4 linked regions of the Homo sapiens genome follow. The protein of the gene in region 1 purifies or fractionates together with the protein of each later gene. This does not show direct contact. Each region holds a gene or a part of one and is shown in the gene's direction. Other genes may lie near its edges.

Evidence for each region. Proteins that work in one complex are often made in the same cells at the same time.
Region 2: the proteins of STK25 (region 1) and CTTNBP2NL purify together in Homo sapiens (affinity purification with mass spectrometry; 8 studies listed by BioGRID and IntAct, with this or other methods). This does not show direct contact.
Region 3: the proteins of STK25 (region 1) and FGFR1OP2 purify together in Homo sapiens (affinity purification with mass spectrometry; 5 studies listed by BioGRID and IntAct, with this or other methods). This does not show direct contact.
Region 4: the proteins of STK25 (region 1) and SLMAP purify together in Homo sapiens (affinity purification with mass spectrometry; 5 studies listed by BioGRID and IntAct, with this or other methods). This does not show direct contact.

Annotation. Positions count from the first base shown.
Region 1 is NC_000002.12:241,497,758-241,503,277, reverse strand, and holds part of STK25 (serine/threonine-protein kinase 25), read left to right. Parts: intron 1-1,569; coding exon 1,570-1,800; intron 1,801-2,481; coding exon 2,482-2,538; intron 2,539-2,996; coding exon 2,997-3,105; intron 3,106-3,863; coding exon 3,864-4,021; intron 4,022-4,103; coding exon 4,104-4,289; intron 4,290-4,493; coding exon 4,494-4,639; intron 4,640-4,928; coding exon 4,929-5,043; intron 5,044-5,520. UniProt on the Homo sapiens protein: Oxidant stress-activated serine/threonine kinase that may play a role in the response to environmental stress.
Region 2 is NC_000001.11:112,450,705-112,455,213, forward strand, and holds part of CTTNBP2NL (CTTNBP2 N-terminal-like protein), read left to right. Parts: intron 1-3,744; coding exon 3,745-3,852; intron 3,853-4,509. UniProt on the Homo sapiens protein: Regulates lamellipodial actin dynamics in a CTTN-dependent manner. Associates with core striatin-interacting phosphatase and kinase (STRIPAK) complex to form CTTNBP2NL-STRIPAK complexes.
Region 3 is NC_000012.12:26,963,800-26,967,148, forward strand, and holds the end of FGFR1OP2 (FGFR1 oncogene partner 2), read left to right. Parts: intron 1-796; coding exon 797-934; 3' UTR 935-2,849; downstream 2,850-3,349. UniProt on the Homo sapiens protein: May be involved in wound healing pathway.
Region 4 is NC_000003.12:57,859,800-57,864,308, forward strand, and holds part of SLMAP (sarcolemmal membrane-associated protein), read left to right. Parts: intron 1-899; coding exon 900-1,040; intron 1,041-2,149; coding exon 2,150-2,287; intron 2,288-4,509. UniProt on the Homo sapiens protein: Associates with the striatin-interacting phosphatase and kinase (STRIPAK) core complex, forming the extended (SIKE1:SLMAP)STRIPAK complex.

The DNA of each region.
Region 1 (5,520 bases):
GCCTGGCCAACATGGTGAAACCTTATCTCTACTAAAAATACAAAAAATTAACTGGGAGTGGTGGTGCATGCCTGTAATTCCAGCTACTTGGGAGGCTGAGGCAGAAGAATCGCTTGAACCCAGGAGGCAGAGGTTGCAGTGAGCCAAGATTGCACCACTACACTCCAGCCTGGGTGACAGAGTGAGAAGCCATCTCAAAAACATTTAAAAAAGGGTCGAGGCTTGAGGACACACCTCTGCTGGCTTCCCCTGGACTCTGGGCCTGGGCCACAGACCCCAGGCACCTTCCACACCACTGGCTCAGAAACTTTTAGGCATTGCTTCTTTAAATCTGAGGACTGTGTGAGGCAGCTTTCTGCATCAAGAAAGCATCAAGTTTCTAACTCCGCGCTGGTGTAGCTGTCAGGAGGACTTATGGAGGGGTGAGGGAAGCCCTTTCTAAATACGTGACTTTCAGGAGTGGAGGAGAACTTGGTTAACACATACTGAGGTTTTTTGTTTTTGATGAGGTTTTTTTTTTTAAATTTTTTATTTTTTTGAGACCTAGTTTCGCTCTTGTTGCCCAGGCTGGAGTGCGATGGTGCGATCTCGGCTCACCGCAACCTCCGCTTCCCTGATTCAAGTGATTCTTCTGTCTTGGACTCTCAAGTAGCTCGGATCACAGGCATACGCAACCTCGCCCGGCTAATTTTTTTTGTATTCAGTAGAGATGGGGTTTTACCATGTTAGTCAGGCTGGTTGCGAACTCCTGACTTCAGGTGATCAACCCGCCTTGGCCTCCCAGAGTGCTGGGATTTCAGGTGTGCACCACCAAGCCTGGCCTGATGAGTTTATTTTTTAGTAATTTCAGATTTATAACAAATTAAGTAAGAGCTCCCAAATCCCCCCTCACCCCCAGGGGCCATTCACCTATTAACATCTGTCACGGGGCTGGCATGTTGTTCGGGTTAGATGAGGCAACCTTCATGCCGTGTCATCACCTAAAGCTCCTGTTTCCAGCAGGGTTCATCGAGTTGGCCTGGCCTCTTTATACTTTCTGGGGACTTTTTCCCTTGCATGGAAAGTTCAGTTTAGGTTTTTTTGTTGTTGTTATTTGTTTGTTTGTTTGTTTTTTTAATGGAGTTTGATTCTTGTTGCCCAGGTTGGAGTGCAATGGTGCGGTCTTGGCTCACTGCAACCTCCGCCTCCCGGGTTCAAGCAATTCTCCTGCCTCAGCCTCCTGAGTAGCTGGGATTACAGGCATGAGCCGCCACGCCCAGATAATTTTTTTGTATTAGAGATGGGGTTTCACCATGCTGGCCAGGCTGGTCTCGAACTCCTGACCTCAAGTGATCCACCTGCCTCGGCCTCCCAAAGTGCTAGAATTACAGGCGTGAGCCACCACGCCCGGCCAAGTTTAGTTTTTGAACAAAAAGGGAGAAAGGAAGAAACCAGAGAAGAATTGAGGTGCGCTCCCTTGGACTCCCCCTTCCCTACAGGTCCCTTCCTCCCCAGCAGGGCAGCCTCTGCCTGTCCCCCGCCTCTTGTGACCGGCGCTGTCTGCCCTCTGTCCCCGCCCTGGCCCCACAGCACTCTCGAGTGGACCCTGAGGAGCTCTTCACCAAGCTCGACCGCATTGGCAAGGGCTCGTTTGGGGAGGTCTACAAGGGCATCGATAACCACACAAAGGAGGTGGTGGCCATCAAGATCATCGACCTGGAGGAGGCCGAGGATGAGATCGAGGACATCCAGCAGGAGATCACTGTCCTCAGTCAGTGCGACAGCCCCTACATCACCCGCTACTTTGGCTCCTACCTAAAGGTGCCTGTTGTGGGGAGGCGGGGACCCTGCTGGTGCTGTGCCCGGCTCTCTTCCATGTCAGAGGGACTGAGTGACATGCCAGAGGGTGCAAGGCGGTCTTGACGGTTCAGTGCATGCCCTCCGGGAAACTGCCCTGGGCAGGCAGGGTGTGAGCCCTCGTCCACGAGGGTCAGTTGGCTCTAAATGGCCATTGGGACCCACTTGCCTGCCTGTGGTAATGCAGTGAGGGCGCTGCTAGGAGCACTCTGGGGGGCCCCTACTGGCAGTGGTGAGTGGGCCTGTGAGGAGCAGGTGGCTGGTGGTGCCAGTGTCTGGGGTGTAGGGAACGCTGTGGCCATCCTGCCCAGGAGGGTGATGGGTGTGTCGGGTCACATGCTTGCCAGCCATGCCCTCTTCCCAGCCCTGTAGGACTGGATCAGCAGCCTGGTTTTTGATGGGGTCTTGGTGAAGTGGAGTCAGCCACTGCTGTGTGTACTCAACCTGTCCTCTGAGCATCTGTAGCAGTAGTGTGGCAGGAGGGGAAGATGGGCAAGGCCGAGAGAGCCCTTTCCTGTTCAGGGTTCTTGGCAGGGATGGGACCGGTGGGGCCTGGGCCCTGGCTGACTCCGGCCTGTGACTCCCACCCTGGAGCATGCCCTTCCTCTTGCTGCCAAATGCTGATGGGTTTGTCTCCGGTCCCAGAGCACCAAGCTATGGATCATCATGGAGTACCTGGGCGGCGGCTCAGCACTGGACTTGGTGAGGCATAGGCCATGGCAGTGGGGGGTCATGCAGTGTCCGAGTCCCCTGCCCCTCAGACTCATGGGCTCCAGGGGCCACCTCTCGTTTGGTGTCATGGCACGTTAGGTGTTAATTAGGAATCGTCTAAAGCAAAAATGAACTGCCATCTGCACGTCTGCCCAGTTGGTGCTGAAAGGGGTCCTGGCCTGTGGGAGTGGGCGGGGGCAGGCCTGCTGGGAGATGGCTGGGAGCCTATTTTTCTGTTACATGACAGTAAGGTGAGGCTGGTTTATATGCTTTAGAAAGAGCCTCCACCACCCCACTCCCATCTGAAACTTAGTTCTGTTTGGGAAGTAAAGGAACACGAAGCCCCCAGCTATCTGCAGGGACAGCCCTTCCCTGTGAGAGAGGCAGAGAACTCAGGCATTGGGCCTGGGACAGGAGCTGAGGCCCTGCTGTCGCACCTTCCTCTCCAGCTTAAACCAGGTCCCCTGGAGGAGACATACATTGCCACGATCCTGCGGGAGATTCTGAAGGGCCTGGATTATCTGCACTCCGAACGCAAGATCCACCGAGACATCAAAGGTCCTGCTGGGGGTGGATGTGGCTCTTGTAACGTCCTGAGCCCCACTGACCTTAGAGAGGCCGGGGCCTGTGAGGGGCAAGTGGCTAGTGGTGCCCAGGGTCTGGAGTATAGAGAACCTTGTGGCCACCCTGAAACTGAGCAGTCCTGTCTCGCTCCCTTTCCAGAAGATACTACTTGTAACGGTTTCCTTGTACGCTGAGGAAACCAGCTGTGGACTGAGTGTAGGAAAGGGCCACACTTGGCTGGAGTTGTTGGTTCCCTGTGGTGCACGGCACAGCAGCAGGTGTAGAATTGAGTAGCCCCAGCGTGTGGTCTGGCCCTGCTGAGAGCAGACGGGAGGCTGGGCCAGCCCATGGGGAGGGACTTGCCACTGGCAACGAGCCATCTCTGTCATGTAGGGGACGATTCTGGTGGAGCAGGGGGCTTCCTGGCAGGCCCGTGTTGGCTACACCCTTGGTCAGGGTCACCTCTGCGGTAGCCCCCAGTGGGCGAAGTCGCTTGTCGTTGGGATTTGTCGTAAAAGCCAAATGCAGGAAGAGCCCTGGAGCTCGGAGTGGAGCCGTTGGGCTCCTGCTGGCAGTGCCCCTGTGGCCCTAGGTGGCCCTGGGTTTGAGAGTGGCAAGGAGGGCTGAGGTCCTGAGGACAGCCCTGCTGTGCCCTAGGAGGCCAGGTGGATGGTACCCTGGCCCTTCTCAGGGGGCCCGGGGTGGAGCCACGTGGAGCCTGGGATGACGCCTGCCTGTCCTGTGTCAAGCAGCTGCCAACGTGCTACTCTCGGAGCAGGGTGACGTGAAGCTGGCGGACTTTGGGGTAGCAGGGCAGCTCACAGACACGCAGATTAAGAGGAACACATTCGTGGGCACCCCCTTCTGGATGGCACCTGAGGTCATCAAGCAGTCGGCCTACGACTTCAAGGTGGGTGCAGCGGGCGGGCAGGTGCGGGCACCATGCCTGGCTCGGGTGCTCAGGGCAGCAACAGTCCTTGTGTTCTGTCCAGGCTGACATCTGGTCCCTGGGGATCACAGCCATCGAGCTGGCCAAGGGGGAGCCTCCAAACTCTGACCTCCACCCCATGCGCGTCCTGTTCCTGATTCCCAAGAACAGCCCACCCACACTGGAGGGCCAGCACAGCAAGCCCTTCAAGGAGTTCGTGGAGGCCTGCCTCAACAAAGACCCCCGATTCGTAAGGCCCGCCTCTGGCCCGGTCCCTTCTAGACAGGACGTGGAGGGAGGGCGTTCGCTTGGGGTGGGCGGCACAGCCCGGAGGCCCAGGCCCACCAGCCTTGTAGCTGTGAGGGCCCGCCCCGGTCCAGGCTGCCTCACGTTTGCTTCCCTTAGGCAGAGCTTGGCTGGGCCCAGTGACTAGTGTTCCCCTGACCCCCTGCAGCGGCCCACGGCCAAGGAGCTCCTGAAGCACAAGTTCATCACACGCTACACCAAGAAGACCTCCTTCCTCACGGAGCTCATCGACCGCTATAAGCGCTGGAAGTCAGAGGGGCATGGCGAGGAGTCCAGCTCTGAGGACTCTGACATGTAGGGACCTGGTTTATCCTCATGGTGACCCTAGGTGCTGTGACGTGGGTGGTCCCCACTCCAGAAGCAGGGGCGTGGGCCCTGGGGGTGAGGGTGACCAGATATAGTGTTGGGCAGGGACCCCCTCAAGGCTGCAGGACAGGGCCTGCTGAGGCATCAGCTGGACCCCGTGGCCTGGCAGAGCCCCGTCTGGTACCTCGGGTTTCCCTTGGCCGTGAGGTGTGCCCTGAGGCCCTCATGCCTCCTGGCCCTCTCCCCACTGGCCCTGGCAACTCCTCATCCTCTTCAGTGATGGCGAGGCGGAGGACGGGGAGCAGGGCCCCATCTGGACGTTCCCCCCTACCATCCGGCCGAGTCCACACAGCAAGCTTCACAAGGGGACGGCCCTGCACAGTTCACAGAAGGTCTGTTCCTGGCCTGGCCTTTGCCCTCTGTGCACCCCTGGGGCCGTGGGATGGGCTGGATGCGGGACCCAGCTTTGTCCACCCAGTGTCTGGAGCTTGGACAAGGAGCTTGGGAAAGGCAGGGGTGGTCTGAAGCCCACTGTGGCACTAGGCCTGGTGTGGAGACCCCGAGCCCCAGCATGTGCCGGGAAGATGAGGGCCTGTTTGGAGCCAAATTTGTGAGGAGAGGGTGGGAGTCACAGGCCCTCAGAGTCAGGAGAGGGTGGGAGTCACAAGCCCTCAGAGTCAGGAGAGGGTGGGAGTCACAGGCCCTCAGAGTCAGGAGAGGGTGGGAGTCACAGGCCCTCAGAGTCAGGAGAGGGTGGGAGTCGCCCTCAGAGTCAGGCCATCCGGGTGGCTTGATGGTTTTGGGGCCGGCCCTGGACATGTGCCCCGACAGGCTGCTCCCAGCCTCTGTCTCTTCAAGGCTAGAGCCTG
Region 2 (4,509 bases), on another chromosome or scaffold:
ATATTGCAGTGCTAAATGTTTTAAGTGAATATTAAATTTTTGAAACAAAGTACCTATCTATTCTTTTTTTTTTTTTTTTTGAGGTGAAGTCTCACTCTGTCACCCAGGCTGGAGTGCAGTGGTACAATCTTGGCTCACTGCAACCACCACCTCCCAGGTTCAAGTTTAAGTGGTTTATCAAAGTAGAAGACTGACTTTGTTAGAAATCAAACAGTACCTAGAGGCTTATAATTAGGGTGCTCATAGTCTCAGCTTATGCCTGTCACCTTGGCTTAGTTATTAACCATATTCCCTTTGACTGTCAGAAATGTTCTGGTTTGAATAATAAATTACATGGTCATTGTGCTTACAATGAAAAACAGTTTTCTATTCCACCTCTTCTCATTCCCCATCCTCCCCAGTATTCACAGGCAACCAGTTTTTTCTTTTAGCCATTCACTTTGGTAGCTAACCTCCATATTTCTAAATACTGCACTGTTCTCTCTTGCTTTATCAATTTTAGACATTTATATTACTTTCTTTTATATAGGTGCAGATTTAGTTATCTTACACCCCGCCTCCCTTTCCTCTCCTTAACCCTTACCCAGAACAAATTTAATCCTCTTTTCCCACCACCATTCTCTGTCACATCTACTATTCCCAAATCCTGAGCCTGTCACACTATTTCTTGAATGTGACAGGCTCAGGATTTGGGAATAGTAGATGTGACAGAGGCCAGATGCTGATGGTCTGTGTGCAGGAATCAGGGTGAAGGGACAAATAATTCTGAAAATACAGGCTTTGAAGGCCAGACACAGTGACTCATGCCTGTAATCCCAGCACTTTGGGAGGCCAAGACAGGCAGATCACTTGAGGTCAGGAGTTCGAGGCCAGGCCAGCCAACATGGTGAAACCCCATCTCTGCTAAAAATACAAAAATTAGCCAGGCATGGTGGCGTTCCTGTAATCCCAGCTACTCGGGAGGCTGAGGCAGAAGAATAGCTTGAGCCCAGGAGGTGGAGGTTGCAGTGAGCTGAGATCACACCACTGTAATCCAGCTTGGGTGACAGAGCAAGACTGTCTCAAAAAAAAAAAAAAAAACACAAAACAAACAAACAAAAAAACAGGCTTTGAGCCAGTTCTCCTGTTTTCTATTCTACATTTCACCTCTCCTCTGCAGTACCTGCCACCTCCAGGTTCCATCTCTTTGGGGCTCTGCAAGGCAAAACAGCTTCCCTCCTTCAAAGTAAAGTAGTTACCACAACTCCAGCCTCTTTTCTTCTTCAAAATATTATTAAAATTTTTTCTCTGCTAGAGGCTCTCTCCTTTGTGGGGTTTTAGTCTTTTTATTCCATTTCTGTAATTTTTGAGGACTCCCAAAAGGGAGAAGATAAGACTTACCACTTTTGGCCAAAAGCATGTCTTTCTATTAAATTGAAAAATTAGATTAAAAAAAGGAAATGTGCCAAATTTTTTTTCTTTCATTTATTTTGAGAGACAGGGTCTCGCTGTGTTGCCTGGGCGGGAGTACAGTGGCTATTAACAGGTGCGATCATAGCACCCTATAGCCTGGAACTCTTGGGCTCCAGTGATCCACCTCAGCCTCCCTAGTATCTGGGACTACAAGCATACACCACAGCACCAGTCTCTTCTTTTTTTTTTTTTTTTTTTTTTTTTTTAGACAGAGTTTCACTCTTGTTGCTCAGGCTGGAGTGCAATGGCACAATCTTGGCTCACCACAACCTCTGCCTACTGGGTTCAAGCGATTCTCCTGCCTCAGCCTCCCGAGTAGCTGGGATTACAGGCATGTGCCACCATGCCTGGCTAATTTTGTATTTTTAGTAGAGACAGGGTTTCTCCATGTTGGTCAGGCTGGTCTCGAACTCCCAACCTCAGGTGATCCACCTGCTTTGGCCTCCCAAAGTGCTGAGATTACAGGCATGAGCCACCACTCCTGGCCTCTTTTTTTTTTTTTGAGACAAAGTCTCACTCCGTTGCCTGGGCTGGAGTGCAACGGCATAATCATGGCTCACTGCAACCTCGACCTCCCTGGGCTGAGGTGATCCTTCCACCTCAGCCTCCTGAGTAGCTGGGACTACATGCACACCTCACCATGCCTGGCTAATTTTTGTACTTTTTTGTAGAAATGGGGTTTTGGGTTGGGCACAGTGGGTCACACCTGTAATCCCATCACTTTGGGAAGCTGAGGCAGAAGGACCACTTGAGTCCAGGTGTTTGAGACCAGCCTGGGCAACATGGCGACACCCCATTTCTACAAAAAATCAGCAGGCCATAGTGGTGTATGCCTGTAGTCTCAGCTGCTCAGGAGGCTGAGGTGGGAGGATCACTTGAGCCTAGGAGGCAAAGATTGCAGTGAGCCGAGATGATGCCACTGCATTTCAGCTTGGGTGAGAGTAAGACCCTGTCTCCTCAAAAGGAAGGAAGGGGGTGGGGGAGGGAGAGGGAGAGGGAGAAATAAATGGCTGGTCTCAAACTCCTGTGCTCAAGCAATCCTCCTGCCTCTGCCTCCCAAAAGTGCTGGGATTACAGGCATGAGCTCATTTTTATTTTTATAGACAGGTTTCATGTCCCAGAAAATTTACTCTCTTCACTCATAAAAATTTTTAGTGAGAAGACTAAGAAATGGCCTTTGGGACAAGAGTGCTCTACCCTGGAGGTCTGGGCCAAGGCACTTCTGAAGCATGAGCAGAAGCTACTAAGCAATCAGAATATTTGCAGTTGTAGATGGGATTATGTGAAAAATGTCTCTTTAAATTTGTATTCTTGGCCATGTGTGATGGCTCACACCTGTAATCCCAGCATTTTGGGAGGCTGAGGCGGGTGGATCACTTGAGCCCAGGAGTTCCAGACCAGCCTGGGCAAGATGGCAAAACCCCATCTCTACAAAAAATACTAAAATCAGCTGGGCGTGGTGGCGCACACCTGTAGTCCCAGCTACTTGGGAGGCTGAGAGGTGGGAGAATCTCTTGAGCTCGGGAGGCCAAGGCAGCAGTGAGCCATGATTGCACTACTACAGTCCAGCCTGGGTGACAAAGCAAGACCCTGTCTCGAAAAATAAATATATTTGTCTTCTCCTTAAAATTGGGCTTAATCCTTTGGCACCAGGGTAAGTGAAATAGGGGTAGGCAAGTTAAATAAAAGGGCGTATGAAAAATCTCCATTTAAGGTCTCTATATTTGAGCCTTTTTACATGCAGTAGGAAGTCAAGAGAGTCTATCCACCTCTTATCTAACTATATAAAAATGTATATTATTAGTTAAACAAGGCACACTTAGAATGTCACCTATTTGAAATGTTGAATTTCAGGCTCCTTCTTTGGTGCCTCTGGTGATTTGAGAATTGAGAAGAAAATCTCAGCTTTCAGGTTTCTGTGGTCCTGTCTTGCTCCATCACCTACACCTGGCCCCTAGTAACACCAAACTGCCTGCAGTTTCTTGGAATTTCTGTTAATTCTCGACACCTCCTCAACCCCTCTAGCTAATTAGTTGCTCTCTTCTCTCTGTTTGCATATCATTCTCTACATACTTCAAGTAAAGTAAGTATCTTACTGTTTAACACAGAGCTTTCATGTCTTTCACTGTAAGGCAGTGTGCTCCTTGATAGCCCTTGCTGGGTTTCATTTATTCGTTTGTTTGTTTGATCTCTGGAACTATCTAAGGTGCCTGATTTGGCACTTATTATTGGTTGTATTAATAAATGTGACTCCTTGATATTTGAAAATGAAATTTAAAAAATTCTTTAAAGGTGATCCTAGACCTTGAGGAAGAAAGGCAGCGGCATGCACAGGATACGGCTGAAGGAGATGATGTCACCTACATGCTAGAGAAGGAAAGAGAGAGGCTGACTCAACAGGTAATTAAGGTAGAGGGATTCACAGTAGCATTTGCCTGGAACAGCATTTCCCAAAGATTATTCTGCAGGATGCCAACTGGTATTGTTCAGAAAAGGGGCTTTGTGGTCAAATAAGTTTAGGAACTACTGGATTAAGCAAAGTTAAACAGGTTTCTAACTTTGTTAGGATCTTTAGTATGCAGAAGCACATTGTGAGTCTTCAAGAACAAGATAGGGTATTCTGTGTTTAGCAAATCCATGGTTTTATAAAATCTTTTATTGGCATAGATCCCTCACTGTGGGATTATTATTGTTCCGTAGAACACTCTTTGGGGAATGGTAACTTAGCGCTTGTAGCTCTCAAACTTTTGACTTAGAACCCCCAGTAAGAAGTGACATTTTATGTCACAACCCAGTATATGTAGACATACACAGTTACGCCTGAAACAAAAATCTCATGAAATCATATATAACCCCTACTGCTACAGTACACATTGATGTTTTCTGTTTATATATTTTTTTAAAATTCTAGTCGTGGCTCAGTTAGTTTCCCCATCCATTAATGGATCTCAGAGTTTGAAAAACACTGAGTTTCTTCAACCCTTTCCCTCTCACGCAGAGTCTCTGCCTCAAATAGGGTTGGGAAGACAATTAAAACAGGCTATATTTGTGTAAAAA
Region 3 (3,349 bases), on another chromosome or scaffold:
TTTAGGGGCACTCTTATTTTTCTGGGGATTCTAAAAACCTTTGTCATCTGTCCTTTATTTTATGACAGTGAAAGTACCAGTCTCTGAATAACTGAAATCAGTACAATAGACTTTTATGCCTTAAGAGCTTCATTTTGAAATCACGGCGGGGAACCTGCTTTAGACTACTAAAATTTAGAAAGTGAGACTGAAGATAAAGTGATAGAGAACAAATTATGAAAGGTTATTGTTAAATGTCTACAAATTTTTTTACAGTAACTAACCAAAAGGAGGCCAGAAAGCAAAGTTATTTACCAGTGCCAGATTTGGTCACTTACTTTCCTTCTTGAAAAATATCATCAGCTACCCCTACCCTGCTGCTCTCAAATGCCAATGAGCTAAACTTGTCCTACATTCCATGCTATCATGGAAAGTAATAAAAATACTAAAAATTACTAGGAGATTCTAGCCTATTCACTGGCTTTACGAGTTTATATAAAAATAAATCTAGATGTTATTTTCTTCATCTCTAATGTGATTGTAAAATAAGGCAATTTCTGAGCTTCTGTTTACAATTATAGCTGCTTAAGTAAGAAGGCTTTGCAGTGGTGGAAGATGTTGAACACGATTCCTAGCTGCATAAGTGTTCTTTAGATTCAAGTTGCCAACTGCATATATCATTGAGTAGATTAATGCCAATTACAGACCTTGCTTGTTTGTTATACCTTCATATGTTCAGTTTTTCCTAACATATGTTTGTGATGTTGTAGCTACCTTGTAGATAGTGACTGCATCTTTGTTTTTGCTTGCCTTTTAGCAAGAAAACAAAGGCTTGAGAGAGATCCTTCAAATAACTCGAGAATCATTTTTGAACCTAAGGAAAGATGATGCGTCGGAAAGTACTTCTTTGTCAGCATTAGTGACCAACAGTGATTTGAGTCTGAGGAAGAGCTGAAGAGTTTCTGAGTCTGTGAGCTTCTTACATGGCTCCAAATGGTCAAATAAGTGAATGAATGAATGGACAGAAAATTCAATCCTTTATTTTTTTCTCTGTAAATATGTACAGTGCACGGGCTATGAGATAGCAACAAAAAATGCATAGTTAATGGTCATAGACTTTATTCCAAAACATAATTGGAAAATAGAAACTGAGCCATTGCCAAATGGTAAAGAAATGAAAAGTTTTCACAGTGACTACTGAATATACCAAGAGCTTTTGGCAGTACTGCTGGCTTTCTGGGTGATTAATTAGGTAAACTTGAATATTCCCAGTAAATGTTTGAGAATGCATAAAATTATACCAATTTAAAAATATAAATTTTTGCCACTGTTTTGTGAACGGAGGATTTGTACGCTAAATTTCATCCTTATTTGGCGTCAAAGTTGATGCAAAGTTTATGTACCATGAGACTTCTAGTGATTGCCTACTTTCACATTTATTTAAATTTTTGTGAAAGAAAATACAGTTTTAAAGGCTATAGGAATGTGTTATATGTACCTTAAACAGATAATTTAATTTTAGCAATTTATCATAACTGATACTTAGCTAACAATTGTCCATAACTTGTTTAAGTGTAAGAAATACCATTTCAGGAATGAAAAAGAAGGAATACTACTTTCTAAGAAAGAAGATCTTATAATAGACATATTTAGTAGGTTAAACTACTCCTTTGAAAGAATAAGTTTTGGTTCAAAGTCAATAATGAAGACGAGATTTGTTTTTCTCTTCTCTGGCTGATTTTTAAGGATATTATGTAGTTCATTTAGTTAACAGAATTGAAATGTTTGATATGGCAAGATAGGTATGGTAATTTCAAAGTGAATTGGGAATTCCTCTGGCTCATAGAACCCTTTTTTTTTTCCTTTAAGTATTCTTGAGATACAAAAAAAAAAAGTAAATACAATTTCAAAAAAAAAGTTCCGGATCTGTTTTTAAGCTCCATCTGGTCCTCATAACCTGCAAGATTTTTCTTAAAACCTTTCAGCTGAAAGTGGGGGTAAAGGTGGAGTAATCTGTGGATTTGTTTCTGTTGTCTTTTAAAATGTCAAATATATAATATGTAATTTTTTTAAAAACCACCAGATACAGAAATGTGCTTTAACATCAGTTGAAACCTAAATTTTCTTATGTTGTGGTGATTGTATTAAAAAGGGATAAAAGAAGAGTGTCAAACATGGTTAAATATATTGTACTCATTTATGTTGAATACGTATTAAAATTAAGACAAATGGAAAATTATACTTTGAGTATATAATTTGTTAAATATTACTTTATATGGTAATTTTATGTATAATTTCATATATTGGTAAAATTCAAAACTACACTTGAGAATTTTTTTATCTTAAGTTTGGGGTGAATGGGGTGGATGAGACTGATTGAATAGAAAAGGGCTAATGGCCCAAACATTATATAGATTTCTTTTTTTCAGTCAGAGGCCTTATTTGATATTTTATAAATAAATGACAGTTTTTATTTTTAAACTTTTTATTGTTTTTGGGAAAGTATTCCTTAATTTAATGACACATTCATTCAGATACTTCTTATCCCTGCTAATAAAGGAAATCTATTTCAAGCTACACCATTGAGATTAAGTCTGAGGCAGTTCATTGAGGCAGCTCTACTATAAAAGCTTACTTGATAAATAATTATTTTTGTAAACAAGTTGGGTTAACTTATTCTTCGTCTTTTTGCTTGGATATGAATTTAAGGTCTTCATGTTTAAAGACATTTACTTTGTTATTTAGTGACACATTTCCATCCTATTTTTTTTTTTTTTTTGGTTGTTGTTAAACAGAACCTTAAGTTTATGTTTGAGGTATGTACTGCATAGGAACCTATTTTATTATTAAAGATGAATGATTAAAATTGGTATGGTCTCCAATTTAATTTGAAAAGTGCTTACCCTTATTCTTATATATGGTTTAATTTTAAGGTTTTTTGTCTCTTCTTAGTGCAAAACTACTTAGCAGTGACCTCTATCTGTATTCCTTAGGAATTAGCAGCTTCTTAGTGTGGATCCTGCAGAACTTCTTACCATTTGTAGTAGGTTGAATCATGTCCCCTAGAAGGTAAGTCTAAGTCCTAACTTGATACACCTGGGAAGGTGACCATATTTGGAAATAGTCTTTACAGATGTGATTAGGGGATCTCAGGATATAATTACCCTGGATTTTGGGTGGGCTCCAAACCCAGTGACTAGTGTCGTTACAATAAGAGAGGAGGAGATATGAAACACAGATATAGCAGCATGAGGACAGAGGCAATGAGTTACGCAAGGACTGCTAGCCACCACCAGAAGCTGCAAGAGAGGCATGGAATGGGTTCTTCACGGGCTCCAGAAAGGACCAAGCCTGCTTGATTTCAGACTTC
Region 4 (4,509 bases), on another chromosome or scaffold:
ATCACCACTACATAATTCATCCATGTAACCAAAAACCACTTGTATCTCTAAAGGTATTGGAATAAAAAAATTTAAATAACCCTGAGGTATGTTTTCTACGGGGAAAGCAAGATAAGTGATTTTCTCCCCTTATTTATTAGATTTCAGAATAATGAATTGGTGGTTTTTCATCTACCAAAGACTGGCCATGAAGTGTTTTCTCACTCCACTTAGATTTAAACATATTTGATGTATTTAAATCTGGTGCAGTTGTTTTTCTTGTTTTAGAGACAGGGTCTTGCTATGTTGCCCAGGCTGGTCTTGAACTCCTGGGCTCACGCAATCCTCCCATCTCGGCCTCCCAAAGTGCCACGGCCAGCCTATTTTTCTTATTGATGCTCAAATTATCCCATCTTTGGTCTGTGTAAATGTCTTCAGAGTGATAGCTTCATGCTGTCATTTCAGACAAGATGTTTCAGGCTCATTTTGTACTTTTCCTGCCCCAGACATGAAGTCTGCTTTTCCCCCATGGTACTCTTATTCCTTTTGTTTTAACCATTGTTTCAGAATGCTTGGTGCCTTTGAAGGTAATTGATTATTTTTGCCTACAAATGTGAATATGGTGGCTTGCAGAAAATATGACAAATATAAAAGTAACTAATTTTGTATATTTTAGGGAAATTCTCAATTGCCTATAACTTTTTTTTTCTATAGGAAGTGGAAATTAGTAAGTTTGTGAAGGCATAATTTACTTATGCAACTTGTAAATACATCTTTAGTTAATACAGGGCCAGAATCATTTATGTTTGGAGGTACCTTAATATATAATTTAAAGTATATCATAATGTGTTAATTTTTTTCAAACAATAAATGCTTTTAAAAAATAACTTGTCTATAATTATAAATATCTTTTATTGTAGAATCAAACAGAAGATAGTTTACGAAAGGAACTTATAGCATTACAAGAGGATAAACATAACTATGAGACAACAGCCAAAGAGTCCCTGAGGCGGGTTCTTCAGGAGAAAATTGAAGTGGTTAGAAAACTTTCAGAAGTTGAGGTATTTCAATCAAAAAAAAAATACTAAATAGTATTATGAGTGTTCAAAAAAATCTCAAGCATTCCAGGATACTTTAAACTTGGGTATTATTATATAGTTAGGAAATACTTTCTGTCTGTCAGGTGGGAAGGAACAGTTACGCTGCTTTCATTGACAGCAATTCTCCATGTGAGTTTTGGTACTTACTCCCTAGTCAATGGCTGAGGAAATAAAAGCGTAACCAGGGAATCTTATTGTTTGCATTCTGCTTAGGATTCACCCTCCATACAGCAGACCATGATATGTGCTGGGGAATTGATTTCCTGTCACTTGGTTTTGCTTTGCTTCTATTTGAGGGGGGTCAGTGTAAGGCCAAGAGTCTACACTACTTGTTCTTTTTTAATTCACTCTGCAGAGAGGAAAACTAGCTGTGTCATATATTTAGGAAGTTCAAAGGTGAAATCATCTCCAAGGTCCTTTCTAGGTCTTGGAGGAGCAATCAAAATGCAATTTTTATTGCTTTGGGGAAAAAAATTCTAATTCATAATATAGATCTTTTCTTTGAACCACTGCAAAATTACCACATAAATAATGTATTACTAGAATTAGTTAAAATGCTCATCAGAAACTAAATGGTAAACATACCTTTCCTTACTACAGGTATAGTTTGTATTGCTACCTCATCCCATAGTGCCTGATTCACTGTTGTGTGATTAATTTGATATATAAAGAAAGTTACTAAGTGTCTTTTAATTTTTTATTAAATTGATTGCTGGATATTATTAAACTTGCTTTCAAGGATTGATAGGCTTAAAATATTTTCACAGCTAAAAGTCATACCCATTGGCCTTTCAAAAATGTAATTATATAAAGGCAGCATCCTTTTCCTGCCCCTGCTCTCCCTCCACTTTTATTTTTTTGTTGTTTTTGTTAATTCTTAGTTATGTTTTCTGTTTTAGTGTGAATTGAAATTCTTATGTTATTTGACTCAGCTTTATTTAAAGTCCAGGGCAGATGTTGATTTAGAATAGTCCATAGAATTATACTTTTTATAAATTTCATTTAGAAGGAATTCTAAATAACAAATATACACTTATTCTAATTAAATTGCCTGTAAACTTGAATCGCAGCGAAGTCTGAGTAATACTGAAGATGAATGTACCCATCTGAAAGAAATGAATGAAAGGACTCAGGAAGAATTAAGAGAATTAGCCAACAAATATAATGGAGCAGTTAATGAGATTAAAGATTTATCTGATAAATTAAAGGTATGTATTTACTCTGCCTGAAAGTATGTTAAGCTAATAATCCCTAACACACTAGATAGCTTAAGATTTTAGGTATTGCTTTAGCTGGGCGTGGGGTGGCGGGCGCCTGTAATCCCAGCTTCTCAGGAGGCTGAGGTAGGAGAATTGCTTGAACCCAGGAGACGGAGGTTGCAGCGAGCTGAGATCACGTCACTGCACTCCAGCCTGGGCGACAGAGCGATACTCCATCTCAAAGGAAAAACAAACAAACAAACAAACAAAAAACAGTTTGGGCCAGGCGCAGTGGCTCACGCCTGTAATCCCAGCACTTTGGGAGGCCGAGGCGGGCAGATCATGAGGTCAAGAGATTGAGACCATCCTGGCCAACATGGTGAAACCCCGTCTCTACTAAAAATACAAAAATTAGCTGGGCGTGGTGACACATGCCTGTAGTCCCAGCTCCTTGGGAGTCTAAGGCAGAAGAATCACTTGAACCCAGGAGGCAGAGGTTGCAGTGAGCCAAGATTGCACCACTGCACTCCAGCCTGGCGACAGAGCAAGACTTCGTCTCACAAAAAAAAAAAAAAAAAAAAAATTCAGTTTGAAAACCACTGGTATAGATAGATATTTTGAATTGATTTGCATAGTCTCCTTGAATGTGTTAAATTATGCTGAAAGTATGAAAGCAGGATGTAGGTGGTACTACATATTAAATAAGATTTCTATAAAAAAAGATTTTAGGTATTGCTGAATAGTTATTGATGTAAAAATTTGGTAACAGTTGAAATTTATAGTGAAAATAAGGTGTCTGTATTCCATTTAGCCCAACCTCCATTACTATAGATAATTGAAAGCCTGTAAATGCTGACATAGTTCCTCTGGATGAATATGTAGTCAGTGCTTCACAATAGACATTTCTAAAATATATAACAGGAAGTAGATGAGAATCAGCAAAACCCATGATATTCAGATGTTTTAAAACCTAAAACTGCTTATCATTAGGCCATCTAAAAGGCAGGGCCCAGCTATTTAGTGCTGTGCTGGAACAAGCCCAGAGAGAATCTGGGAATGATCTCCCTTTTAGCTTTCAGGGATGCTGTTAACTCTGCTTTAGCTGCCATTCCCTCTATCTATGAGACATCTAGGATAAGGACAGATCAGATCATAGGGTAATGATAGGGTAATGTCTAGTTGGTCCTTTAGAATCTTATAACTGAGGAAAAAAAAAATCTTATAACTGTTTGTGAAGGTCCATCTTGGTTTAATTCAAACTATGGATTGAGTGCCTAGAAGATATGTGTTTGTTAGAGAAGACCAGAGCATACCTCCGTTGGTTAACCTATGATAGTTTTCAAAGTTGGTCTTGTTAAAAGGAGATTGTCATTGTCCATTTTTGTTGCTATAAAGGAATAGCTGAGCCTGGGTAATTTATAAAGATAAGAGGTTTATTTGGCTCACAGTTCTGCAGGCTGAAGCTTCAGGCTGCTTCCACTGATGGCAGAAAGCAAAGTGGAGCTGGTACGTGTTCCATGGTGAGAGAGGGTCTGGGAGAGGTGCCAGGCTCTTTTTAAAAACCAGCTTTCATAGGACTAATAGAGTGAGAATTCACTCATTACCATGAGGACAGCACCAAGCCATTCATGAGGGATCTGCTCCCATAACCCAAACACCTCTCATTAGACCCCATCTCCAACACTGAGGATCAAATTTCAACATTGAGGCTTGGGGGACGAACATCCAAACTATAGGCAGAGAGGTCTTTTTGAATAGTGATTGTACTGTCATCTCGTTACTAAATAATTTTGTTTAAAATTTCAGAATGTTAACATGATAGAACTTCAAAATTGAAATGATAGTAATTTTAGGGAAAAATCTTACTTCCCTCTTTAAAAATACGATTTTTTTTTCCACATTGACCCTTTACCTCTGTGTGTACTGAGCCTACTTGCTTCCTCCAAGTTTCTCTCTCCTGGGTGTTATGGAGGAATAACCCAATGCAGATAATTTTTGACATCAAGCCTTTGTCTTTATCATCTTTACTGGTTTAGAAATGTCAGGTTAGCCGGGCGCAGTGGCTCATGCCTGTAATCCCAGCACTTTGGGAGGCCAAGGTGGGCTGATCATCTGAGGTCAGGCGTTCGAGACCAGCCTGACCAACATGGAGAAACCCCGTCTCTTCTAAAAATACAAAATTAGCTGGGTATGGTGGCGCATGCCTGTAATCCCAGCTACTTGGGAGGCTG